4 linked regions of the Homo sapiens genome follow. The protein of the gene in region 2 purifies or fractionates together with the protein of the main gene of each other region. This does not show direct contact. Each region holds a gene or a part of one and is shown on either strand. Other genes may lie near its edges.

Region 1 (7,488 bases), on a different chromosome or scaffold from region 2:
CATTAACTGCATGCTCTAGGACAAGTTACTTAACCTTTCTGTATTATTTCCCCATAGTAAAATGGAGATAATAATAGCAATTACCTAACAAACAGAGTAGTTTTAAGGATTAAAAGAGTTAACACACAAAGCACTAAGAACAGTACGTAGTGAGTATTTATAAATATCATCACAGAATTTTCCTCTAAAGACTTTAATAGCCTGTGGTTTTCTATTTACATTTCTGTTGCTCTGTATTAGGCCATGAAGCGCTCTTGAGAACAGTCTGTCTTTGATATGGATTTGCATTTCCACAAAAAGTATTTGTTGAATGAAGGAAGGTTAGGGTATAAAGTATGAACAGATACTACTTCAATGAACAGCAAACTAGGATAAGAAAAGGGGGGCTGAAGAGAGTGAAGATCACTATCTATTAAGTTTAACTTCCCATAAGGTCACCTATATGGTTAGAATAATGCAGTCAATTTTAGTAGCTACTTAAAAACATGTTCACAGTATCACAGTCCTTAGTGAAGGGGTTGTGGCCACCTAATGAACAGTTAATTCCACCTCAGCAGTTTTCTTCTGTGTCTTTGGGGAAATTACTTTCCCAGGTAGGTAATTCCATCTTATTAATGGTAGTATGAGGCTTAGTGTTTGAATGTCTGAAGATGAAACAGAGAAAGAAAAGTCCATGTATGGTTCTTTCTGCTCTTCTGCAACATTGCAGTTGAAAAGCAGGAGGGTGGGAGAGTCCTGCTGACTTTCACAATGTTATAGTGTGAACATAGGTTACTATTCTTTGCTCAGATATCTGGGCAGTGTGCCAAGGTCCAAAAAAGGAACGTCTTTGCTCTTAGCAGGGCACCAATGACTTTCCTGCAGATGCAGGCTCTGTGCTAACTTCTCAGCTATAAAGATTGAATTTAAGTGTCTGTTATTCCACAGACAGAGCCACATATTTCTTTTTCACTTTCAAATTTATATATATTTCTAAATTACATGTATTTCTATAACACAAAAAACTAAGCAGTACCATTTAGATTCCTTCATACAGTTTATTTTGCTGTCACTCCCTACAGACAACAAGCAAAGAATCCTCCGCTTTGAATGAGCTTACAGAAGAAGGCTCTTTTCTAACTCTGTCCATTCACACACCCTCCTGAGGGGGCAGGGAAATTGAGTCATGTGTGAGTTTGCTGTCAGTTCCAGCAAACTGCCAGACAAATTCTTCCTCATGTTCTGTCTCTGTGTTATCTGGCACCCCAGTGACCTTCCAACGGTGGGGCCTTGCTAGGGAAACTAGCTAAGAATCTGGGGCCCAAAATCTCTGTGACCTTGGGAAAATTATCTGACCTCACCAGACTACATTATAAGAGTAGATAATATAATCTCCAAATTCCCTTTTAATTCTACAATTCCAGTATTTTGAATGGCAAGGAATAAAGCTATCAAGTAATCTACATGCTGATAACATATTTGAGTTTGTATATGCAGTATGAACTGGTAACTTCATCCGGAATCTCAGCTAGTAAAAATAAGTTTTCAGGGAGTTGAGTACACTGTCTCTCCCCCGCTGCGAGACCTCACTGCGGTGGTCCCTATAAAAATAAAAATTCAGAAAGACTTGGTAAGTGTAAGACACAATATAGAAAAATGGCAAGAGTGTGAGACTCTTGGAGCAAATCACATTCTCTTTGGGTCTCGATAAACTCCATTTTAAGATCTGAAGTGGGGAGATTCGTCAAGATGACCTTTAAAAGATCCCATTCAGTTCTAAAAGCAAAAAGTCCAAGGTTATCAGATAATAAGTACCTCTGCTTTCTAGCTAAGGTTATTAGGACAGAAACTACCGAAACCATAATTTAAATGACTAATTATGTGACAAAACATTTAGGAAACCTAGGTTTAACACCTACTGGAAATTAGTAGCTGTCTCCACTGGCCCCGTTAGACAGGCAGAGAGAGTAATGCCCTTGCCTTGAAAACGTGTCTTTTCAGGTTCTGGGAAATTTCCAATTCATTCAAACATTTCTCCACATTCTCCAGCCGTTTTAGTATTTTGCAGATAAAGTAGGAAAAACAGTCGCAACTATAAATACAAGCCATTGTATTGATAGTATGAAGCGATTTCTCTGAGTTTGATGACAAATGTCACCTTCAAGCAGTACGCAGATTATTCCTACGCCAGAGTTCCTTCACCAACTCTCCCCCTCCCCCTCTCTTTCAGCAGAGACAAGCGATGGAGATGCAGGTTACCCAGGTCTTCCATGACAAAATGGTTACTCTGTTACATTTAAGAGAGGTGCTTCTGGAATTCACAATATACAGTTCAATAAAGAATATTTGCAGTAGTTATTTAGTTAGTGATGCTGTCACTTCAATATATCCTGGCATTACAAAAAAGGTCAATGAACGGGTTCCAAATAACATTTTGAGAAATTAGATATGGCGGAAACACGTCTGCTGCAAACGCAGATCGTAATCTGGAGCACCTGGTAAATACTACCTTTCCAGCTTTTTGCTTTCAAGGTCCCTGTGACAAAAGCCGTTATAAACACTGTGGGCAAATGAGGAGAAAAAGGGGTTAGGACCCAACCTTTCCCTCCCATCGCAAACCTTATCGTCCTTATCAAACACCGTAACGTCCTTTGGAAAATAGCTGCAGCGTCGCATTTTGTCCTCCCGTCATGCAGCAGGATTAAGATCGCTCCTCTCCCAGGACAACTACTTCTCCAGAGTCCTCCTAAGAGCGCCCCATACCCCGCAAGGTGGAAATCAATCCCTTCCCATTACTGGGTCACTGCGGCAATCCCCAGAAGATGAGTCCGAGCTTGCCAAAGGGCGCGAAGGACAGTGCCTTGCACAGCTGCCTCCCAAAAGTCCCTAAAGTGCAAGAAACCCCACTCAAGGGCGCGAGGGCCAGAGGTGGGCAGGAACCCGGGGCCCACACTCACCATGATTGAAAACTGCGGGGACAATTTCAACAACTGCAAAATGAGCCTCAGAGAGTCAGGTCACCTCTACCGCGGAACTGACTCGGAGAGGGCGAGCGGTGTTAGCGAGAAAAGGCTCCGCTCCCGACGCGGCGCTCTCTGGGAACTGTAGTTTACGCTGCCCTGGTTGTGGCGCAATCTCCAAAGCATTTCCTTCAAGTGTTGAACTACACTTCCCGATACCAGAGGTTTTTTTCAAGCTCTTCTCACTGCGCTCTGCGCCGATTGCAAAGTAGTCCCTGAGGATGAGCCCCTGTGATTGGAGGACGACAACAAACGGATGGTTTGGGCTCAGGAGGAAAGGACCTGCCTGATGGAGCCCGGCAATTGGCGGGAGAGATAGCGTGTGTAACTCTAGGGAGGGGAGAATCACCCCTTAGCGACATCACCCCCACGCGCGTGACTGAGACTGCATCCTCCCATGAGGGTAAACGTGGGAGGTAAAGAGACCTTCCGCTGCGTAAAGCTGGATCGACCCGGAAACAAAATCTTTTAAAAAACGATTGACACTCTGGAGGGGCGGGGGAATTGATAAGTTGGGACGACCGGACAGCTTCTCAGGTTGCTAAGCGACGAGGCGGGAGCGCACGCACACCCTGGCTGCTTTGTAGCACCTGAGGAAACTGTGGCGGCGGCGGCGGCGTCCTGGAGACCCAAGAGACCAAGCGAGCGTGTCGCTCCCTCTCGGGTCCGAGGACCTAGCCTAGGAACCTTCTGCCCGGGGTAGTGTCTGGTGATGAGGCGAGAGTTTTGCTGGGACGCCTACTCCAAAGCGGCCGGGAGTCGCGCTTCTTCCCCACTCCCGAGACAGGTGAGCCCTGGCCCGAGGGCAAGGGGTTTTCTTTTAACCTTAGGATCCGGAATGCGGTTGGTGCGCCGTCCCGCTTTGCTTTTATCCGCTGTGCGGATGCCTGCAAGCTCGCCGGTCCCTTTTCTGAGCGGAGTATGAGGGCTGTGGGAATGCAGCTATTTTGGAGGGGGTGGTGCCCTGGAGTAGGTGCACCCCCGACCCCAAATGGAGCTCTTCCAGAGTTATATCAAAAATATTTATTGAGCATTTACTTTGTAGGAGGTGAGCCTCTCCCTTCCAGGAGGTCACAGTATACGGTTCTAATTTGCTCTAAGCCCTCCGTGAATGTTGAGTTTTGTCCATTCCCTTTTGGAAGAAACAGGATGCGCCTTAAACCATCTTGAGTCTTAAAGTTATGCCAAACAGGCATTTCTAAGGAAAGACTGGCGACTGAAGGGGAGACACTGGTTGTTTAGTCAGTCAGTCTCAGCTGGTAAAACAACTTAAGAGGTTCTCTTTAAAATTAATGCTGCCAAGAGAATTGCTGTGCTTTTTGAAAGCTTGTTTCTTGTGGATGTTAAAAGGAAGATATGATGCTCGGGAGTAGCATACACAGCATATACGTAATGAAAATGAATAAAACATCTCTATTAGATAACATTGTTAGAACTTCCGTTTTTTCTCTGTCACTGATAAATGAATGCCAAGTAATATCTTTCAATTTTTCTCTATTTCAGTTTGGAGGATTTGCTATTTTTGGAAAGAAATGTAATGCTTTACTTTTAGCATTTATTAATATCATACCTGAATGACTCTCCTTGTATCTCTTTATTCATTTGGCTCTCAGACAACATACTTTCCTGGTTTTCCTCTTTTGTTACTGGTTCTCAGTTCTGCGGAGTTTCTAAATTTTTTTTAGTTGTGATCTCTTAACATTGGGGTGCCTGTATTCTCTGTCTATACTAAATCCCTCAGTGAGCTAATTCATAAGTTGCATCACTTCAAATGCTACTTTTAATGTCAAAAACTCTCAAATTTATGTGTCTAGTCCTGAATTAGTAGGTGTGCATTATTCTCAAACCTAGGTTCTCTGAGTTTTACTTTTTACTCTGAGCAGTTACGAAAAATTTCTTCCATTATCCTCCTAAATGAATTCTTCTACTAGCTGCTAACAGAAAGATTTTTCCATGTTGTTGTCCTTAAAAATATCATGATTTTACCTAATGTAAATGACGAGTTAATGGGTGCAGTACACCAACATGGCATGTATACGTACATATGTAACAAACTTGCACGTTGTGCACATGTACCCTAGAACTTAAAGTATAACAAAACAATCTCATGATTTTTGTCCTCGATTTACAGTGAATTTTACAAGGGAGACTTTTTATAACCAGAATTCTCACTGCAGTCCTATAGCAGGACAGGACATTCCCATACTCCAAGAAGGCCACAAACATGTAAGCCCCCGTATTCCCATCCAGTCCAGATATACAGAATTGAAGTCACCTGTGTGGTAGTTCACGGGCCTTGTTCTGTTTATTGCTAGTTGCCCTTGTAAATCAGGTTAAGGAGCATATTAGCACTGATTGTAAGTTACTTTTCTCAGGTAATATAATACACTGCAAGAGAAGATGTTTGGTAAGGTGGGTATATCAGCACATTTCCAATTATACTAATAAGATTGTCTGTGTTCTCTTCCTTTTGAACCGTCTTTGGTAATAGCTAATGTCAAGTAGCACAATATGTCATTGCACTTTCACTGTGAGTTTGAATCTCCAGGTGGTTTGTGAATGTGTTGCAGACATTCATTTTTTGTTAAGGCAACAAACAGAGCATTAAACTGTTATGCTATATTTGGAGTTATGCTTAACATTTTTTTTGCCCAGCCTCGCGTTATTTAGTAAGGTAATATTTAATTCAAATTGTAGAAAATGTTTGAAATACCATTCTAACAACATCCAGCAAAGATATTAAAGGATCATTAAGTTTCAAATCTCTGAAATAGAATGTTGGCTCTTGATACCCAAGGCACTTTGGAACTCACAAGATCTTATGCTTTTTTATAGTATACAATTATTTAACCACAGCTAGGCGTGGTGGCTCACACTTGTAATCTCAGCACTTTGAGAGGCTAAGGCCGGAGGACTGCTTGAGTCGAAGAGTTTGAGACCAGCCTGGGCAATATACTGAGACCTTGTCTCTACAAAAAATTTTTAAAAAATTAGCTGAGTGTGGTGTTGTGCACCTGTAGTCCCAGCTCCTCAAGAGGCTGAGGTGGGAGGGTTGCTTGAGCCCAGTAAGCAGAAGTTGCACTGGCATCACTGCACCCCAGCCTGGGCGACAAAGGGAGATCCTGTCTCAAAAAAAAAAAAAAAAAAAGAAAATTATTTAACCTCATATTAATTTTATCTCTAGCATATATAAAATTGTTATAGATCTAGTTAAAACTCATTCATCTTAATGTTTTCTTTAATGAAGTTCTATTACACTTTTAAGCTATTTTATAACAATTTTGTTATAATCTGGTTCCTTTTTGTTGAAAGTAACAATGTAATATTTAGAGAGTACTATAATGTAAAGATGCCTTTACATTGCTGTCTGTCTAAGTAGCTACATTTTTAGAAATATGTACTTTACCATAGGATCATGTATTTAGTAAACAGCCATGTTAGATAATGGAGTGTGATTGAAAATAGGATTATTTATAAAGCAAGGTTAAGACTTGTGAAATAAATCAGAGACCAAATTATTACAAATATTTTTTAAAGGAAAGATTGCAGAGCTAAATAGTTGACCTTAGCTGAAAAAAAAAACTTTGGCTTTTTACCCTTTTTAAAATTTAAGTGTAATGCTAGGTATCTTGGAAATTATTTGTTGGCTTAAGTGACATGCAGGACATTTTTGAAAGTATTCTCAAGTAATTTCTTAAAATGAATATGTAGTATTTTAAAAATAATTATTACATTCACTTTAGTGAATCTTAAACGTAGTAATTCCAAATTTAGTTATGGCAAAAATAAAAGTGCTTGTAATTTAATTTAAAACTGTAGTCTCAATGAGAACCACTTTATTACTATGTCTTACAATTTTATACATACACAATTTGTACACATTTTAAACTATAACATTTGACTGGAATTTTCAGGAATGGTGAAATACAGGATATTTTAATAGGATAAAAGTTTTAATCATGATCATTACGTAGTCAAGTTGCTTTGAGTGGTCAAGTGGTAGAATTGAGTGGAATAATTTGCTAGGACCTCCTCTTTTAACTTTAGTTAAACAAGATAAAACATTATTCATCAGGATTCTGTTTGATAATTACATGTTTCCAGAAGTATGAGCTACCTAACCTTGAGTTTTTTTCAAGTGAAAGGAGCAGAATTTATTGGTCTTAACTTTACTACCTAGCTGTGTGACCTTGAACAAGTTTCCTGGTCTCTATAAATCTTCATTTATTAATACAATGAGGCTAATAACACAGAGTGATCATTATATCTGGAAACGTAATGTAGCAATTCCATTCCTTTACATACCCATTTAAATCAAGAGATGTACAAGATGTTCATAAGCACTGTTTCTAAGAGCACAGCTCTAGAAATTACCCATATGGCCATCAATAGGAAAATGTAAAAATATATTGAAAATGAATAGAACATAGCTACACACCAACATGGATTCATTGAAATCCATTGGATTGATTGAAAATGAATTCATTTT
Region 2 (5,869 bases):
AGACTTGGGGTGGGCAGGGGTTGTTGTGAATTAGATCAAAGGAATGAGGAGGAAGGTTGCTAACCAAAGTCTACAGCATCTCTTTATACCCTTCAAACATCTATCAACCACTCCAAGTATCACTTGTTCACTTCTATACTTCTTTAAAAATGTGAAGAAACTACAGTAGTTGTACATGTATGGCTGAAGTTGTTTTCTTTGTTGTTGTTGAAGTGGGCTAGGAGCTAAAGGGACTGAATTAAACAAGGTGCCAGCAAAGGCGAACTGCAAGACTACACCTGCCGTGGGTATTAGCTGAAAGGCTGTGGTCAACAACGAAGCCTAGTTTAAGTTAGCTGGGCACCTTGAAAAAGAGCCCAAATATTAAGGGATTTGTGGTCTCCAAGGTAACCACACAGCCCTCCCCCCTCAAAAAAGCATCTGTCCTTCAGAGAAGCATCCAAGGCTGATGTTGACAGCTTCCTATTTCTATTCAATGTTTCCTAAAACCTAAAATTCATCATTGAGAAGAAACAAATCAATGAGCATAAATGACAAGTTTTATTTAAATTTTAAATATACCTTTATTTCTCAAACTCAAAGCTTTATCAAGTTCTAACACATTTTGCATTGACAAGTGATTTTATCTGCATCAAGTAAGGTTAGTGACCACCACGAAAGAGGAATCCCCAGACCTCCTAGGCACTAAGAAATATTTCAAAGGCTATGCAAATATAGAACAAAAAGCTTTCAATTTAGTCTAATTGGTATCTATTTTTCATCTATATTAATTTGGAAATAAGTTGCTACCTTAGAAAAATTACATTTTTATCCATTAAAATAAAACACCAGATAGGTTGAGTTTTTTTAAAAACACCCACAGATCTGTATTTAGCTACTTCCTCTTTAGTAGATGGTCATCTCACCTTCCTATGCAAACACACACAAGAATTTGCACCAACTCTCACTAGCCCAGGCAAAACTCCAAGCATTTTATTTAGCTTACACTTCAATTATTTTTTTAAAGTGATAGGTAAACAAGATTTAGGCACTTGAACACACACACGCACACACACACACACACACAGTCTTTTATTTCCTGATCTTAACCTTAGAGTTCTCCACAAATAATCCTGAAAAGTTGCCAGATCTTTAAAAATACCTCTCCTCAACACCGCCCCCCTCCCCCACGACTTGGTCCTCTGATTTTAACTGGTTGAATTGGAATATGTTCCAAAGCGAGCTGTGAAATTCTAGTCTCTGCAAGATTAAGGATGTGAATCTAACCTTGGAAACTGGATTCTTACAAAGTCCACCCAGAAGGTTTTCCCTGACACAGAGCCCTGGTCCGACACCCAGGAAGGAATGGCCTCTATGAGCGTCAGGGTCTCGTCTCACCATTGGATAACTACTTTGCTCTCAAAAAGAGGACATTTGAGCTAAGAATATAGCTGTATCCCAATACAAGGCACCAACCAGTACCAGAAAGTAAACTACAAAGGAGTTATTCCTCAAGTTAGGAAGTTGCTTTTGAGTGGCACCATTTCCCAAAGTCAACAAAGCAGTACTAGTTAAAATCCTGACGTACCATAAGGGTAAGGGGTTAGTGCAGAGGTGAAGCTGAAGAATAAGCAGATTCAGGGTTTTAGCAATTTGATTATTAATGTGTCACCACAAAACACAAGTTCATACACAGCTTGCTGTGACTCAAACCCCAGTGAAAATCAAACTGGACAAAAACTGAAATGCCAAACTACATCTGTAGCATCTATCAGGAACTAAGCATCATCTTCCTTACCCAACTCACCCCATCTGCCAGGTCCCCCAGGTGTGGGCCATCCCACAGGCATCCCCATCAGGAACTCTGATTGGAAGGCATTAGTAATAGAGTTCAGTTTCAGCATTGAAATTATTGAATGAGGAATAATGTGTTACTGCCAAGGTAAGATTTAAAGGGGAGACTAGAGCTCAAGGTCAGGCATCTAGTGCGTGCTATTCTGCCAATGTGAGAGGAAAAGGTACTGTCTTCATCTCACTGATGCTCAACCTGACTCCAAGCAGCAGGCTAGGAGAACAGGCTGCAGACATGCCGAAAGCATCAGAAAAAGAGTCAAATCAGAGTCCCGAAACAAATAAGAGACTGCTTAACTTTAGATTAGAACTTGCATGTGAACTTCAGTGCTCTCTGCTACTGCCAAGTTTCATGTTACTCAACACACACACATACACACACACATAAAATAGGAACCACTGGACTCAGTATAAGCTCAGGGTACCTGGTGCTTGTGTGAGCATTAGGAAAGGCAGGTTTCAGCTAGAGTTTCCAGGGCCCTGAAATTCAAGGTTACCTCGCCTATTCTGAGGCTGGCAAAAGGCTCATAGAGCAAGTAGAGACATCACTAGCCCAGGGGTTGTGTTTTAAAAGTACAGCTTTGGTCAGTGCAGCTTTTAACCCTGATAGCTCTTGAATAGGTCTATTCTCAAACTACAAAAAGATCTGAGCTGACTAAAAAGGTCAGGTGAAGGGACTCCGAGACAACCATGGTGCAATGGTGGCAAAGACTGGGGACTGGGTCTTTCTCGCAACTTCTGTGCCTCCTTTCATTCTCAGAAGAGGACTATTACCAGATGGGGGGGAAAAAACATAAGCAGAAAGAACCCCAAGGACAAACTGGAAATTTAATTCCTTGATGCAGATCTTATCTTCATCTGGTGCCTCATTACCCTGGGCCCCAAGCCTTCTAAGTAGAAGAAATACTGATTTCTGTTAGGCAAGTGCTTATGTTGGTGGCTTCATCACATTTCAAAGCTTTGGTTAAACACATCGGTCATTTTTGTGCAAACACATGCCATTTGACCACCATGGCAGCTTTTTAAGGTCATGAATGACCAGATAGTTTCCAAAGTTGGGATCACTCTTCATTGGGGTTCACTCTTCATTGCCCCACTCTTAACACTGAAGCACACTGGGTCCCCTCAATTAGAACCGGCCTTGACTCAAAGCCACTGAATTAAAATATAACTAAGGCTCACAGGGAAACAGGAGCTGATTACACTAAGAAGTGGCTTCTAGTCACCTAATGTAGCACAACATAGATACCAGCTAAGCCTTGAGTTTCAGTCATGGCTGATCTGCTTTTAAGAGGACCAAGACATCACATTCCAGAATAAACTTGAAAATATACTTTTAGAAAAAAAGGTAAACCACTCATTTTCTACTAAGCTCTTTTGCATTAGGATAACTTCACTGCTTAAAGCAAGGAGAAAACAATCACTCCGGGCTTTGGGTTTTCATAGCCAAAGGAAGGGGGAAAAAAAAGATCAGGAGCATGAATTTGATTAAATCACTTTAGAACCCAAGCTGGCTGGCAATATTGAGTGTCTCTGCCCTGAAGTGATGCTTTCTAAGGGATCCCACAAAACATTTCAAAACACATAATCTCATCTAAATCTACTGGAAAAAGCCACAGTAGCCTAGAACTCTCTCATCTACTAAGCTTTCTTTCAACTACAGATTAACACTGTTTTTCTTCTAAAGTGCAGAATTATAAACAAGTCAAATCTACCAGAATAAGGAAGAGCATTCTCATTCACTCAATTCTTCCCAAATATACTGGAATGATTTCAAAGTGCCTTGGAAGCTCCAATGCACACAAGGCCAGACTTCATGCTAACCCCCCAGCTTCCCCTTCACACAGAGCACGAAGACAGCAGGTTAGATTCTAAAGCAGTTCCACAGGTCACTCAGTTCTACCGAAATTCCTGAATTGAGTTGCTGTCAAACACACCTGGAGAAGGAAGTCACTATTTTTGGAAAAAAAAAAAACGAAAAGAACAAAAACAAAAAATAGCTAAAGTACTCCAGAAGAACAGCTGTGTCATACTTGGAATGTGACCAAAGTGGGTTTCCAGTTAAAACATGGGAAGACCCTCATGTCAGTTACCACAATGACTCTGGACTCAGCACAATCCTCAGTCTTAGGAAGAATAAAACAAAATTCAGCCATGAAAGAGCTGATGAGGAAAAAAGAAAAAAAAGGCAGGGAGCCATTTAATAAGAATTCTTTAAAGAAAAAAATGAACATTCATGTTTCCTATTTACAATTATCCCCTTCCACTACCACCACCACAATTCTAATTAAACATTATGTTCCACATTTTATTTTGTTTTCAAGTTACATTTCAAGAAAAGGTCATTTTTTTTTCCCCTCAGCAATATCTCGCAATTCCTCAGGATAGTACAGCATGTAAACCATAAACCACTTTCAACCAGATCTCAATTCTCCAGCTATTGGCTTTGGTTTATTGATGAATGACATTCTCCACTCCGCTGACAGGGAATAAACATAAGCAATTTAGTCCCTTGAACAAAAATTAAGTCACAAGAGCACCCTCATGTTTACCATTTTCTGCCTGACTAAAATTGGTACAAGAGAAGAGATTATCAGCACAACTTTCATGTAACTGCTGAGAATCCCAAGTGAGGGCCAACACAGCCTACCCGGGCTCAAGTGAGAAAACAAGTAGCTTAGCACTTCTCACGCGCTGCCCAAATTCTCCCAATCTCGATTACTGCACAGAGCTCAACCCCCACGTGCTAATGTTTGGGACATGACATGTTAGTGTCTATCTTGGAAAGATGTGGATAGGTCATGCTTCCTGTAGCGTTTTCCAACGTGGCACTGTAATACGGGTCCTTTGAGGGTTGGCTCATGATACACTGTAGACCCATTCCAATGGGTACACAAAGGAAAAAAAAAAAAAAAAGCAGAATCAGAGCTGAGTTCCCCTTTAAAAGCCAAATGCCTACATCTAGAAGGAGGCTCCCCTACCTGAGAGCCCTAGCCCTATTGGGGTTCCCACTGTGGAAACCCTCAGGTCTCAAGGTTAGTTACAGGGCAGCCAGGTAGGGTAAGGCTGGCTGTAGGTGACTGGAGGATGGGCAACGTAGTAGTTGCTGAAGTTGCCATCACTGACGTAAGGGGCCGGCTGGTAGTAACAGGTGACGTTGGTGGCACTGGGGATGATGTTTTGTTCCGCCAGCACACGCAAGGCCAGGAGGGAGATGAGGTTCAGAGTCTGCCTGCGTTCATGCCCCATGAGACACACGGTGCTCTCGTTCACCACCCTGCGAAGGATCATGAGGTAGTCGTACTTGCTTCTCTCTTCTTCAGCGAAGTGGTTTTGAAGGTAAGTCTCCAACTTCCTCTGCTGTTCAAGGATGTCCGGGAAGTCGATGAAGAACCTGGAGCACATGTAGCGCTCTAGAGTTTTGATTTCTTCCTGGTCTGTGGGCCTGAAGTCCCGCACAAGAAGGTTGCTGTACTTGAGAAGTCCCCCGCCTCTGATTTCTTCTGGGTTCTTGGTGGCGATCAGTCTGTTCTGCAGATGGTCAAAAGCTTCCTCAAAGTCCCCGTACATGCTCTCCCCAATCACGGTGGGGTGGAAGTGCTCAGAGATGGGATTATTGGAACAGTCATAGAAGAAAAGCAAAGAATCCAGGATGATTTGGAAAGAGTCCACACTGAACTCAAACTGACGCCGAATGGAGTCGACAAACTTCAGCTCCACGTTCTTCCCGTTCTTGTTGGAGAGGGAGATCAGGCTCCAGCGGTCAGTGTCCGTGCAAACCTTCACTAGCTTCTGCACATATGCCTCCTTCAGAGTGACTGGACTGATTTTGAGCTTGTTCACACCCTCTGGCAGGAAGTTCAGAAGGGAACACAGAACCACATCTCTAACCAGCTGAAATTCTGCCTCTGTTGGAAGAGCCACATGGAAGATTAGGTCCAGGTCTTTGCAGCCCAAGCCATTGTCTTTGACCAAAACGTGGCCAGCTGCGGAGCCATTCAGCCGGACGTCGTGCACTTTGATGCCTGCCTCCTCCAGC
Region 3 (7,605 bases), on a different chromosome or scaffold from region 2:
GGCCAGGTGTGGTGGCTCACACCTGTAATCACTTTAGGAGGCTGTGGTGGGCAGATCATCAGAGGTGGATCACCTGGTGAGCTGGTCAGGAGTTCGAGCCCATCCTGACCAACATGGTGAAAGCCCGTCCCTACTAAAAATACAAAAAGTAGCGGGTGTGGTGGCACATGCCTGTAATCCCAGCTACTCAGGAGGCTGAGGCAGGAGAACTGCTTGAACCCGGGAGGCCAAGGTTGCAGTAAGCCAAGATCGTGCCACTGCACTCCAGCCTGGGCAACAAGAGCGAAACTTGATCTCAAAAAATAAAAAAGAAAGAAAGAAATTAGCAACAGGAAGGAAGTAGCATACAGGCTGTTAGGTCAAAGGGAAGAAGCAAGGTTACCAAAGCCAAGGGGTCAGGATCCCAGCAGAAGCGGGAACCACAAGAGAGACAGACACTGCCAGATACAGACAGACAGACAAATTATTCTGGCTTCTCCCTTCCTCCTATCTTCCAATCTTCCACTGGTGCCTTCCAGTGGCTACACCCAGCCAGAAGCCAGCTGATATTGGTCAGCCTACAGTAATGCAGACAGACTAGGGGAGGGAAGATAAATGAATCTGGGAGCAAATAAGCCCAAGACTGGCACAATACAGGAATTTTTTTTTAAGTCTGAGTATTAAAAGAAGCTGAATAAAACTGGATCAAAACACAAAACAGTTTCAAGAAGGGAGTGGTCAATAGTGTCAAATATAGGATAAAGGTCAAGAAGAAAAAACTTGGGCTGAGCACAATGGCTCACACCTGTAATCCCAGCACTTTGGCAGGCCAGGAGTTCAAGACCAGCCTGGCCAACAGAACCAGACCCCGTGTCTACAAAAACTAAAATTAAAATAGATTTAAAAAAATAATTAAAAAACAAAGAAAAAGGAAATCACTGTATTTTTCAGCTTCAGTGGCAAAGAAATTTAACTGCAGAGAGTTAAGGAGAAATAGATGCAGAATACATGGGAGGTAATGAGTAAAGACCACTCCTTTGACCAGAGAGAGAAAAGTGATTAGAGCTAGAAAGGCAATGTGCTCCAATAAAGTCCATAAAGATTTGTTGACCATAAAAGAGACCTGGTAAGCAAAGGGAAAAGAGCCAATGTAATGAGAGGTCAAATTCCATTCTACAAAATAGCACAGAAAACTGGAAATCCTGTTTATAGTTCAGTAAATGACCATTTAATTCAAGTGTCCAATACAACTGCTTCCTAGAGTTCAGTAATATGAATGTCACATATCATACATTACAGCATGTACAGGCTTATTTTTTTCATGAGGAGTATTTGTGTTTCATTTTAAGATCTTTTTTTTTAAGACGGAGTCTCACTCTGTTGCCCAGGCTGGAGTGCAGTGGCATGATCTCAGCTCACTGCAACCTTCCCCTCCTCCCGGGTTCAAGCGATTCTCCTGCCTCAGCCTCCCAAGTAGCTGGGATTACAGGCGCCTGCCACCACACCCAGCTAATTTTTGTGTGTGTGTGTATTTTTAATAGAGGTGGGGCTTCACCACGTTGGCCAGGCTGGTCTTGAACTCTTGACCTCAAATGATCTACCCACCCCGGCCTCCCAAAGTGCTGGGATTACTGGCATAAGCCACCTCAACCAACCTGATTGTAAGATCTTAATTAAACCATAAATTAAGAAGGTTCTGAACTTTTTTTTTTTACATCTCTAGAGTACCTAGTTCACCTATGTCACCTAGTCAATACTGACTGAAACCCAAGATAACCTAATTACTTTCTTGTGATTTCTTCACTCATCCCATGAGACTAACAAATAGGCTAAAAACTCATCTTCCCTGGAAACCTACGCCTTGTGACTTTTCTATTATCTCAGTCACCCAGGATCAATTTTAGACTCTTTCTTTTCCCTTGGCTTCGCACCCTCACTCCCTAATTGTCAAGTCCTAGACTGGTTCTTTTACAATCTCTTGCAAAGCTCCTACCGCCAGCACCCTTGTGCAAGTAATGTTATTCTACGCCCAGACGTAAGAACTAGAGTGACCTACCATTGCAACAAAAACAAACATATCAACAATCCCTACTTAACTAGGGTCAAGTCCATACTCACAACATAACTGGATCTCCAAGCTTATTGCCCCCATCGACCTAGAAAACTCAAGCTTCACCAACCACACCCTGAAGGTCTCTACCTATTCCTGAGGCTTTGCCTGACAATCTGTGGTGCGTACTCCCTTGCTTACGCATGTGGAGAATAAATTCTTTGAGACTCTGCCCCTGCTGTGTTCCCTAAACACAACGGTCAGAAGAGCGACAGCCCTTGGAACGCCCTCAGTATGTGAGCTTTGCTCATATGTCAAGTATAATTTATTGTATTATCTGAGTAGTCATTTGTTTTCCCTGATAAATTTCAGGCTGCTCCAAAAAACATCTGTTATGATCACATGGTGCCCTCTCCCCTTGTATGCCCAATGATTATCTATTGTATTAAAAAAGAAAAGGAACCTCTCCTGACAATAACGCACACAAATATGTTTTAAAGAAAATCTCGGGAGCAGCTGCACAGGCCTGCAAAGAGACTCTCCCCGATCCCACCGCTCAGGCCGGGCCAGCGCCAATCCTGGCGGTCCTGCCCGCCCAGACACGTGCCCTTGTTTGACACACCAGTAACGCTCATTAAGATGATTACGCCGAGACCTTGGAAGTAGAAACGCGCTGTAAAAATAGGCGAGTCCCTGGGTGTTATCGGAGCACTTAGGCGGTTTTTGGACCAGAACCCGTCGCGTGACTGTCCTGGGGCCTAAGCCGCGCGCCCGGGCCGCGGGAGCCGCAACGGCCGCGGGCTGGAAGCTTCCGAGGCGGGGACTCCTCGCATCCCGGGTCTGAGTGCTGTGGGGACGAACCCCGCTCACCTGCACCAGCCTCCGGAGCAGGGGGCTGCGGCTGCGGGCGCCGCTGCGCAGAAGTGCCGCCAGCACAGCCATGGTCGCAGAGGGCTGAGTATCGGCTCCACAGGCGTAGACTAGCGGCCTCCTCCCCAACCCCGCACCCCTAGCGGCCCGGCGCGGGCACCGCCCATCCCGCTTCCTCCAATAGTCGCCTCTCAGTCGGCGGCGATTGGCCGGCAGCCAAGGGCGGGGCGGAGCCTGGCGCTGGGACACCGCAGCCTGGGCCAGGAAAGGTTGACGAGTGAAGGACGTGGATGGAGACACTGGCGCTGGGGTCAACGAGCACCTGACACGCTGCTGGCTCCCGTGTCCACCAAGTCTAACCTGCCGGGGCCGGTGGTTTATGTGTAATCCGAGATTTTTCGATTTACTGAGCATGTTTCCCTTAGGCCTACCCAGCACAAACTCATGAAAATATTTTAGGATTTTTTTTTTTTTTTTTGAGACAAGGTCTCACTCTGTCACCCAAGCTGGAGTGCAGTGACGTGACCACAGCTCACTGTAATCTCGACCATCAGGGCTCAAGCGATCCTCCCTCCCCAGCCATCCCAGTAGCTGAGACTACAGGCGAAAGCCTCCACAACCAGATAATTTTTGTATTTTTTGTGGAGACGGGGTTTCACCATGTTGGCCAGACTGGTCTTGAACTCCTGGACTCAAGTGAGCCTCCCTCCTCGGCCTCCCAAAGTGCTGGGATTACAGGCGCAGGCGACCACGCCCAGCAAATTGTTGTATTTTTTTTTTTTTGTAGAGACTAGGTCTCCCTATGTTGCCTAGGCTGGTTGCTGACTCCTGGGCTCAAGCAGACGGCCAGACTCAGCCTCTCAAAGTGCTGGGATTACAGGCGTGAGCCATCACACCCAGCCGTGAAAATATTTTGAAGCAATCAAATTCCAGGCTCAGTCCAGATACAAATATGGGTAAAAAGGCCTCAGGTGATTCCAGTCCCCAACCTTCAACCACTCCAGCTGAGACCCCAGACATCATGGAGCAGAGACAAGCCATACCCACCATGCTGTCTGAATTCATGGTCCACAGAAACGAGAGAAAACAAATGGTTGTTATTTTAGGCCATTATGTTTTGGAGTATTTTTTTTTTTTAAGATAGGGTCTCGCTCTTGTCACCCAGTCTGGAGTACAGTGGTGCAATCATATCTCACTGCAGCCTCAAACTCCTGGTCTCAGGGGATCCTCCTGTCTCTGCCTCCCAAGTAGCTAGGGGATCCTCCTGTCTCTGCTTCCCAAGTAGCTACGTAGCTAGGACTACAGGCATGCTCCACCATGCTAATTTTTTTAATTTTTATTTTATATAGAGAAGGGGTCTTGCTATGTTGCCCAGGCTGGTCTCAAACTCCTGGCCTTAAGAGATCTTCTGGCCTTGGCCTCCCAAAGCACAGATATTATAGGCATAAGCCACCTAAATAGGTCTGTTTGGGGGTAATTTTTTTTTTTGAGACAGTCTCGCACTTGTCACCCAGGCGCGATCTTGACTCACTGCAACCTCTGCCTCCTGAGTTCGCCTCAGCCTCACGAGTAGCTGGGATTACAGGCGCACGCTGCCAAGCCTGGCTAATCTTTTGTATTTTAGTAGAGACGGGTTTTCACCATGTTGCCCAGAGGCTGGTCTCAAACTCCTGAGCTCACGCAATCCGCCCCCACTAGGCCTCCCAAAGTACTGGGATTACAGGCGTGAGCCACTGCACGCGGCCAGGGTAATTTTTTAATATAGCACCCTGTCTTTAATTTCCCCATCACTCCAGGTTTGTCCCTTAAAGTCCCCTGTGATTCCTGCACCGAAGAACCTCTCTATTCAACAGCTCACCAAGGCCTACCTCCTTCCTTGGAATGTCACACTCACACCTTTCCCTTCTACCAGAGGCCAAAGACAAATATTTTTCATACTGGGCTGCTTCGAGAATTATTGAAAGGAAGTCATTACATTGTATGTCAGTGTTTAAACTTTGTGTGTGTGTGTGTGTGAGAGAGAGAGAGAGAGAGAGAAACAGATATTTCTAACTGAAAAAGTTGAATTGTTAAAGAAATGACTCAGAAAACTAAAGGTCTGGCCTCATAGAGATTACCAGTTGTGAGAGGCCAAAGCTGATGACTAGGGTATCACACAGTAAAAGATGACTGGTTAGGCTGGGCGTGGTCGCTCACGCCTGTAATCACAGCACTTTGGGAGGCCCAGGTGAGTGGATCATTTGAAGTCAGGAGTTAAAAGCAGCCTGGCCAACATAGCAAAACCCCATCTCTACTAAAAATACAAAAATTAGCTGGGCATGGTAGTGGGCACCTGTGATCCCAGCTACTCAGGAGGCTGAGGCAGGAGAATTGCTTAAACCTGGGAGGTGGAGGTTGCAGTGAACTGAGATCACACCACTGCACTCCAGCCTGGGCAACAGAATGAGACTGTGTCTCAAAAAAAGAAGAAAAAAAAAAAGACTGGTTACATAGCTATGTACATAGTTCTTAATATGAACCAGTTCTTTTACAGTTTAATTTTAATTCTCCCAAAAATCCACTGAATTAGGGAGTAGCATTATCCACATTTTCCAGAAGTTTGTCCAAGGGCACAAAGCTAGTAGTTAGTGACACAGTTGCAATTGGAATCTAGGCAGTCTGGTTGCTAGGTCTAGGCTTCTAGGCACTCACTACACTAGTTGTGTCTTAGGAGACACCTGCCCTAGGAGAAACCTAACTAGGAACATAGAAGTCAGCTGTAATTGGACAATTCTGCCATCAGAGGCACTACCAGGAAAAAGTGCCACTATGTTCATCAGGACAGCTTCTAGAGAAGTTCAGAGACATTTAGGAGCATTGAGGGGAGAAGAATAGTACATTTATTTCTGGAGCTACAGCAGGCAAGCTGCTCTTTAAAACTAAACTTCAAAAAAATAAGAGTAGCTTTATCACCAATATGAGCACCAGGCAAAAATGTAGCTAATAATTTCATTTAAGAATCTAGGACTTGGCCGGGCGCGGTGGCTCACGCCTGTAATCCCAGCACTTTAGGAGGCCAAGGCAGGCGGATCACAAGGTCAGGAGATCGAGACCATCCTAACACGGTGAAACCCTGTCTCTACTAAAAATACAAAAAATTAGCTGGGCATGGAGGGGGCCACCTGTAGTCCCAGCTACCTGGGAGGCTGAGGTAGGACAGTGGCGTGAACCCAGGAAGCGGAGCTTGCAGTGAGCCAAGATCGTGTCACTGCACTACAGCCTGGGTGACAGAGCGAGACTCCGTCTCAAAAAAAAAAAAGAAAGTGACTAGATTAACATTTCTTCTGTGAAATAGAAATGGAGTGTTGGAATGAAAATTAAATACAATTAAGAGAGAATTATTTTTGTTTGTATTTTAAAATTTATTATTATTAGTACTAGTATTTTGGTAGACACAGGTTCTCACTATGTTGCCCAGGCTGGTCTCCAACTCCTGGGCCCAAGCAATCCTCCCTCAGTCTCCCAAAGTGCTGGGATTACAGGTGTGAGCCACCACACCTGGCCAAAGAAAAAATTTAAAAACATTTTTTGCATATCTGAATTTGTGGCTTTGGATTATCATTCCTGTCATAGCAGGCAATAGTGTCTGGACAGATGTATTAATGAAGAGCTACTCAAAAAGTGGTTTATCTGGGATTTATTACATTTGTCAAGGAGATCTAGTCAATACCTCCATCTAGTGGCAAACTTGTAAGTGGAGACTTAGGTCTTGCAAAGTATTATTAAAATATTGATAAAATAAAGCCCTCTGAAATGTCCATGAGACCCAGAGTGGCTTTCTAGAAGTAGAAGTTAGTTTTAGGAATATTAGAGCAATATTTTCACAGCAGGAAACTAGTGGAAAATTAAAAACATTTAAGAAAAACTTGTGGGTATTATATTTATAATACAAAGATGTTTGATATTCATTTCCAAGTAAGTTCTTCTACAACGAACAACTTCTGTCAAACTTAGACTACTGGAATAACTCGTTGTACTACGTTAAACAGTGTCCTTCCAAAAGATATGTTTGTTTAAGGGACAGGGTCTCTGGCCAGGTGTGGTGGCTCATGCCTGTAATTCTAGCACTTTGGGAGGCCAAGGAGGGCAGATCACCTGAGGTCAGGAGTTCCAGACCAGCCCGGCTAACATGGTGAAACCCTGTCTCTAGTAAAAATACAAAAAATTAGCTGGGTGTGGTGATGGGCTTCTGTAAGCCCAGCTACTCAGGAGGCTGAGGCAAGAGAATCGCTTGAACCCAGGAGGTGGAGGTTGCAGTGAGTCGAGATCGTGCCACTGTACTCCAGCCTGGGCGACAGAGCAAAACTCTGTCTCCAAAAAAAAAAAAAAAGAGAGAGACAGAGCCTTGCTCTGTCACCCAGGCTGGAGTGCAGTGGTGCGATCATAACTCACTGCAGCCTCCTAAGCTCAAGTAATCCTCCTGCCTCAGCCTTCCAAGTAGCTAAGACTACACGTGTGTCACCATGCCCACCTAATTTTTATTTTTTGTAGAGATGGGGCACTCACATTTCCACCCACTTTCTCTTCAAGGCAATCTAGGCTTAGTCTATCATGTGCCTCAAACTTCTTCCTCTGCCCATCACCCCAATCTATTAATAAAGGCACTTCCATGTTTGTGTATATTAATATGGCAGCACCCCACTTTTCAGTACCAAAATCTGTATTTG
Region 4 (7,027 bases), on a different chromosome or scaffold from region 2:
GTAATCCACTCCATCCTATGGCATAATAGGCTAGATATGTGGATTTTGTTAATTAGTAGCATGCATTCCATATCTAATGGGTACAAAAACCACAGATTCCTAGAAACTTGGGACTAAATAGTTCACTCTAACTCCTTACTTTATGGATGAACAAAGTGAAATCCAATTTTGAGAAGGAACTTGTCCAATGTCACTAAACAAATTAGTGACATAACCAGGGAACATGGTCTCTGAGAGTAATTCCCTAAATTAGATTTCATAGATTGGGAGTTTGTAAAACATAATCACATTACTCTCAACACAGGAATATGAATATATAGTCACTAAATCTATTACTGTGGTTATAATCCAAATACTTGGAAAAGGTTTTCATATAGTCACTAAATCTATTACTGTGGTTGTAATCCAAATACTTGGAAAAGGTTAGCTTCTAGTTACTTATTTCCCCATACTTGTTTTGAATATTTTATGCCATCCATATAAATCAATACCACAACAACGATGGAATTCACTAACAATCAAAATAAATCAAAGCTAGTTTTCTGGCCTCTGAATTACATGTACAGTAATACATTTTAAAATAATGCTTAAAATTGCCAACTCTACTTCATACGATTATAAAAATTATTGTACTTATAAGAAATTGACAATAATTTTGCAAGATTGTAGAATTCAAAAGAGCACTTATACTTACATTGAAACCTGACATGTTAATATCTATCCGTGGTTCACCTTCCTTTTGTCCTTTTGGTGCGATTTGATTGAGAAGATGGAAATAGGCTTTGGAATCCTACAAAGAATTGAAAATGTCAGTGAGATCACAGTTACAAGGAATGAATGTATCCTATTGTCCCATGTTTGGAAGGCTATTTGCATTGGATTTTTTGAGAATAAATGGCACAAATCTCTGCCTTTTAATTTAACAGGTGTTTTCCCCAGAAAAGTCCATCTATCTGCCTTATATCTGTCTTGCATATGGATGAACTGGATTTTGACATGACTTCGCAATTATTAAAGTCATCAATACAATAATGCTAATAAACATATAACCAGTTCTGTACCTTCACTGAATTACTGAAGTCAATAAGCTTGACAGACAAAACAAGCATTTAAAAAAGTAGGAGAGCAGAAATCCAGGAAGCATAGAAGAAAGAGAAAATAAACAGGTTATATCATTACAAAGCACAATGCATATACCACAACCTACGAAGAAGAGATTAGCTATGTTAAAGATGTATTTAATTGTAAATTTAAATGACAAAAGCATTAAATGGTAAACATTTTAGTTGCTAAAATAACACTGAACCCTCTATGATCTGAATGTACTTAACAAAACAAAGGTCTCTTTTCGTTTTAAACCCCTGGACTAAATCACTTGAATGTTGTTTTCTTAGAATCCCAATACATAAAACAATGGGGTTGGCTCACAGTCAACATGAATTCAGGTTGTGTGGACAACTCCACAAAACACAGCTTGAAAACTATTGTACTTGCACAAACGCTTATTAAGAACCTTTACACACGTGTCAAGTAAATTCCTGCATCTTTGGAATGCTAGAGGACCGGAATTTGAGTCAAGATTCCTTAATCCTGCCATATGTGAAGACCACCTTCCAGCTACGATATTAATAGTTTCCTGTTACTGGGCTTTGAAGGTCCAGACAGGCTATGAAGGAGTGTTTCTCATAGTCTATGTGCATACTAACCCCTGAGGAAGTTACTCAATATGTGAATTACTGAATCCAATTCCTGAGCTACCAAATATAAATGTCTGGGAGCTGCCCAGAAAGGTGCCTTTTAAACCAGTTACCCAGGTGAGTTTGAAACTTGGTGCCATAAATGATTCTAAGAATGGGGAAAATCAGGTAATTGAAAGCTATTTCAGAGCAATTCATAAAATGCCAACTCCGATTCTATCATTTGGGGGCATAGCATTTACCTCTTAAGGAATAGTGTACTACAATTGCGAAAGTGCTTTCACTTCCAATTACTTGCTAAAGCTACACAAACAATTTATAATAAACCTATGCTCTTGAGAAGAACAAGTAAAGAGCAGACCCAGCAAAATCTGTATTTACTACCCTGAAAAGGGCTTTACAGGTGAAAATTTGAACTTGAATACAGATAAACTGGAAGTTAGTTTTCACATTACCAAACAATTATTTCCTTTTTAAAAATATTGATGGCCGGGGGCGGTGACTCATGCCTGTAATCCCAGCACTTTGGGAGGCCGAGGTAGGCAGATCACGAGGTCAGGAGATCGAGACCATCCTGGCTAACACGGTGAAACCCCATGTCTACTAAAAATACAAAAAAAATTAGCCAGGCATGGTGGCGGGTGCCTGTAGTCCTAGCTACTCAGGAGGCTGAGGCAGGAGAATGGCGTGAACCTGGGAGGTGGAGCTTGCAGTGAGCCGAGATGGCGCCACTGCACTCCAGCCTGGGCGACAGAGCAAGACTCCATCTCAAAAAAAAAAATAAACAAAAAATAATTTAAAAAATAAAAAATAAAAAAATTCAAAGCAGGCTTCATTTACAAAAATAAGATTTTCTCTTTACATTTAAAATATATCCCACTACATAAAATCCATTTATGGTTGGCTTGCTGATTTTCAGGAACGCATCTAGTGCATGAAGCAAAATATACCTGGCTGGCCAGGTACCATGGCTCATGCCTGTAATCCCAGCATTTTAGGAGGCCGAGGTGGGAGGATCACTTGAGCCCAGGAGCTTGAGTCCAGCCTGGGCAACACAGTGAGACCCCATCTCTACAAATAATAAAAAAATCAGGCCGGGCACAGTGGCTCATGCCTGTAATCCCAGCACTTTGGGAAGCCGAGGTGGGCAGATCATGAGGTCAGGAGTTTGAGACCAGTCTGACCAAGATGGTGAAACCCTGTCTCTCCTAAAAATACAAAAATTAACCAGGCGTGGTGGTGGATGCCTGTAATTCCAGCTACTCAGGAGGCTGAGGCAGAAGAATCTCTTGAACCTGGGAGGCGGAGGTTGCAGTGAGCCGAGATAGTGCCACTGCACTCCAGCCTGAGTGACAGAGGGAGACTCCATCTCAGAAAAAGAAAAAAAAATCAATCGGGCTTGGTGGTGTGCACCTGTAGTCCCAGCTACTTGGGAGGCTGAAGTGGGAAGATTGCTTGAGCTTGGGAGGTAAAGGCTGCAGTGAGCCATGTTAGCAGCACTGCACTCCAGCCTGGGTGACGAAGTGAGACCCTGTCACAACAACAACAGCAACAACAACAAACCTGGCCAAACATATTGTGTAATTAAAAGAGAGGGCAGGGTCAGTTGGTCTTATAATTTTGGGGCTACTCTTAATTTTCATGGATGAAATCAGTAGTACAGGCAACTCACTGCTTCCTCTCATCACTGAACAAAATCATATCATCACATAGTATTGTTTTCACAGCCTTGCTGGTCAGTGACATCTGATGAAGATCCTTAAGTTTATTCCCTGTGTACCAACATCTGGATGTCACACAGAATTGAGGCAGTTAAGGAGAACTCCACACAATGTTTGCTATGGTAATGTTGGCCCTCTGCATGAGAAGCCAAAGGCAACATGTAATAAATGTCTTCCTCCATTGTTAGTTTTCCCCCACTGCTCATGATAAACAGTGAGTGAAAAAAAAATTCAATTCAATGCAAGAAATATGAGGGACTTGTATATGCCACATACTATGTTTTAAGTTGGCTTTAGTAGGAGGGCCCTGGAGCAGGGGCTGAGGTAGGATACACAGACATAAATAAGAGCTCATTGCTATCCTCGAGGAACTCACAACTAAAGGTAGGATAAAATGACAGGAGAGAAGCCAAATAAAAAAGGTGAAGAGGAAATCATGAGGCCCTTCCTATCTCTTCTAGGTGTGTTTACTAACAGGTACACTGAGGCTTGGGAAAGGCAGTTAAGAATAGAATAGTCATGTCCTATTCTTTAATACTCCATGTTTACCAATAGGCAGGATATAACAAATTAGCATTATAATATGATAAATTAGCATAATATTTTTACCTTTTCCCACAAAATAAAACATAGGTGCTAATGTACCTTATCTGGCTCTATTACTCTTCTAAAATCTACCTTCAGGGCCAAGAGACAACAAGGCTTGGTGATACAGTGTTAGGATTTTCTCTCTGTTAAGCTGGGATGAAATCTTCCAGCTATTATATCCCCCCAAAATGTTGTGATTCTTTCAACAGTTACCTTGATGTCAGCACTAAAGTTGTTAATTTTTTGCCAGCCCGAGTTTTCCAAATGAAAGTTTGCCCATCTAAGCAGAAGCTCTTCTGGAGACAATTTCATAAGTTCCTCCAAAGTCTCACCATCTCGGAGTAAAGCAGCCAAGGCTAGAAGAAAAAAAAAAAAATCCCACAGTTATTATATGACACAATAATGGTCATGCCAAGTTCATTCAGTCTTTTGACACTGTTAAGTAATAGAGGTGCAAAAACTACTATGACATAGTTCCTAGTTTCAAGATACTCATAATCTACTAAAAAAGATAAATATATAACAGATATAATAACATAATACTACAATTTATTCTTTTCTCTGTTATTCTTCACATTTCAAATACCAAATGAGGTTATGGCCTTTAAGCTTAATGCAAGCTTCACATTATGTCATATGTTTGTATAAGTTGTTCTTATTTAACACTTCTAAAGTCAAGGATTTGGGTCTGGGTGCAGTGGCTCACGCCTGTAATCCCAGCACTTTGGGAGGCCGAGGCGGGCGGATCACGAGGTCAGGAGATCAAGACCATCCTGGCTAACACGCTGAAACCCCATCTCTACTAAAAATTCAAAAAATTAGCCGGGCGTGGTGGCGGGCGCCTGTAGTCCCAGCTACTTGGGAGGCTGAGGCAGGAGAATGGCGTGAACCCGGGAGGTGGAGCTTGCAGTGAGCTAAGATCGCACCACTGCACTCCAGCCTGGGCAACAGAGCGAGACTCCGTCTCAAAAAAAAAAAAAAAAAAAGTCAGGGATTTGGGGGAAAGATGTTTACAATTTGGGAATCTTTTACTTAACCTTTTGATTAAAGTAGTCTAGAAACACGGTGGTATTTGTATTTAAGTAAAATTAATCAATTAACTCTTGAAGGCTCAATCCTATTTTAACAGAAATATAATTCATCCTTATATTTTCTTTTTCTTTTCTTTCTTTTGAGAGAGTCTCGCACTATTGACCAGGCTGGAGTGCAGTGGCGTGATCTCGGCTCACTGCAACCTCTGCCTCCATGATCTCGGCTCGCTGCAACCTCTGCCTCCCAGGTTCAAGCGATTCTCCTGCCTCAGCCTCCTGACTAGCTGGGACTACAGGCACATGCCACCACGCCCAGGTAACTTTTCTATTGTTTGTAGAGACGGGGTTCCGCCATGTTAGCCAGGGTGGTCTCCAACTCCTGGCCTCAAGTGATCCACCTGTCTCGGCCTCCCAAAGTGCTGGGATTACAGGCATGGTCCAACACACCCGGTTGCAATCTTACATTTTCTCTCTTTTTTTTTCTTTCTTTCTTTTTTTTTTTTTTTTTTTGAGACAGAGTCTCACTCTTTCGCCCAGGCTGGAGTGCAATGGCACAATCTCAGCTCACTGCAACCTCCGCCTTCCGGGTTCAAGCAATTCTCCTGCCTCAGCCTCCGGAGAAGCTGGGACTACAGGCACGTGCCACCTCGCCTGGCTAATTTTTTGTATTTTTAGTAGAAACGGGGTTTCACCATGTTAGCCAGGCTGATTGTGCCACTGCGCTCCAGCCTGGGTGACAGAGTGAGACCCTGTCTCCAAAAAAGAAGATGGTGCAAAATGGTGGAGCTGAGGGTGGCAACGGGGTAGAAGTTGTGTAGGCAGAACAGAAAAAAATAGATAATCAAGTTTGAGGACTTCAGGAAAGCTCCTTAATCTCTCTGTGCTTTTGTGTCATTATTGCAAAATGAATTGTAAAGTGCCAGACAAATGTGAATTACTAGTAAAGAAGAGAGTCATGTAATTAGGCTATTTTCCTGAATAACTCTATAGCATTACCTTATGTTCATTCTAGTTACCACCATTTAATCACCTCCATTAAGTGAGAGCACGAAAGTCTGCATGACTAGAAAAAAATAACCAATAAACAACTGCCAGAATGACTGTGTTCCATTACCTTCATTCCTGCTTAATTCAATGTCAGCGAACAAACCGATCTTAATGATCTGCCAAAGCAGTCCCAAAACCAGATGAGGTTTCCCAGCCCTCAAATCTTCTGCACCAATGTTCACAACATGACACCCAATGGCAGAAGCAGAGTTCAGTGCCAAGTTCAAGTTTTCCTGCAAGACAGCCAAATTACACACTTGCTTCTTGACCTTTCCATTTTTTAGCAGTCTACTTTCTCCCTTCACTGAAAATAACATTCAATGAGGAAATTAATACCCTGTATTAATTTCATCCATATATGTGTCACAAAAAACAAATTCCAGAGTTTTGTGTTAGAAAGCCTAGCTAAGACAAATTTCAGCCTTATTGCTATTGCCTTTTGCAGAATCTCATGAGAAGTTAACTTTGTATTTTTATTTGGTACCTTTTGAAGTATGCTGGCACTAAATGAAAAGGCTGAGTACCACAGTAAATATATCCATGTGAGTAAAGTGTTATAATTCCAAAAATGCCTAAATGGGTGAGAGACCAACAGTACTGCATATGCCCAAAAGAGTTTTAGAAGTTATCAATGTCCACATCCCAAGAGGTGCTCTTCTCTGAGGGAATTTTGCTAATAATCTAATATTCACTTGATAGAAAAAAAAATGCTCCATTTCTTAAGCACGCCAGTTAATTAAGAGCTTATATACTTCTGCTTATCTCTGTAGTGCTTGAACACATTATGAAATGAAAAGAACATGGGGCTTTGAAATTAGAATGGGATTTGAACCTCAGTTCCAACATTAATCTCAGGCAAGCTCAGAAACCTTTCTGAGTCCCAGTTCTGTCTGTATAATCTGGATAACAATCCCACACTCAACAGTTTTTACAAGGATTGATT

Evidence for each region.
Region 1: the proteins of TENT5C (region 2) and MDH1 purify together in Homo sapiens (affinity purification with mass spectrometry, with the first as the bait; 2 studies listed by BioGRID). This does not show direct contact.
Region 3: the proteins of TENT5C (region 2) and ACAT1 purify together in Homo sapiens (affinity purification with mass spectrometry, with the first as the bait; 2 studies listed by BioGRID). This does not show direct contact.
Region 4: the proteins of TENT5C (region 2) and PLS3 purify together in Homo sapiens (affinity purification with mass spectrometry, with the first as the bait; 2 studies listed by BioGRID). This does not show direct contact.

The regions. Positions count from the first base shown.
Region 1 is NC_000002.12:63,584,495-63,591,982, reverse strand, and holds the start of MDH1 (malate dehydrogenase, cytoplasmic), read right to left. Parts: upstream 3,021-7,488; 5' UTR 2,940-3,020; coding exon 2,937-2,939; intron 2,838-2,936; exon of another isoform or gene 2,656-2,837; coding exon of another isoform or gene 2,599-2,655; intron 1-2,598. Other genes in the region: WDPCP (WD repeat-containing and planar cell polarity effector protein fritz homolog), read left to right, coding at 3,712-3,786. UniProt on the Homo sapiens protein: Catalyzes the reduction of aromatic alpha-keto acids in the presence of NADH. Plays essential roles in the malate-aspartate shuttle and the tricarboxylic acid cycle, important in mitochondrial NADH supply for oxidative phosphorylation.
Region 2 is NC_000001.11:117,623,042-117,628,910, reverse strand, and holds the end of TENT5C (terminal nucleotidyltransferase 5C), read right to left. Parts: coding exon 4,867-5,869; 3' UTR 522-4,866; downstream 1-521. UniProt on the Homo sapiens protein: Catalyzes the transfer of one adenosine molecule from an ATP to an mRNA poly(A) tail bearing a 3'-OH terminal group and enhances mRNA stability and gene expression.
Region 3 is NC_000011.10:108,116,973-108,124,577, reverse strand, and holds the start of ACAT1 (acetyl-CoA acetyltransferase, mitochondrial isoform b precursor), read right to left. Parts: upstream 3,012-7,605; 5' UTR 2,972-3,011; coding exon 2,900-2,971; intron 2,783-2,899; exon of another isoform or gene 2,652-2,782; intron 1-2,651. UniProt on the Homo sapiens protein: This is one of the enzymes that catalyzes the last step of the mitochondrial beta-oxidation pathway, an aerobic process breaking down fatty acids into acetyl-CoA.
Region 4 is NC_000023.11:115,634,171-115,641,197, reverse strand, and holds part of PLS3 (plastin-3), read right to left. Parts: intron 6,318-7,027; coding exon 6,152-6,317; intron 4,363-6,151; coding exon 4,220-4,362; intron 1,089-4,219; coding exon of another isoform or gene 1,062-1,088; intron 791-1,061; coding exon 695-790; intron 1-694. UniProt on the Homo sapiens protein: Actin-bundling protein.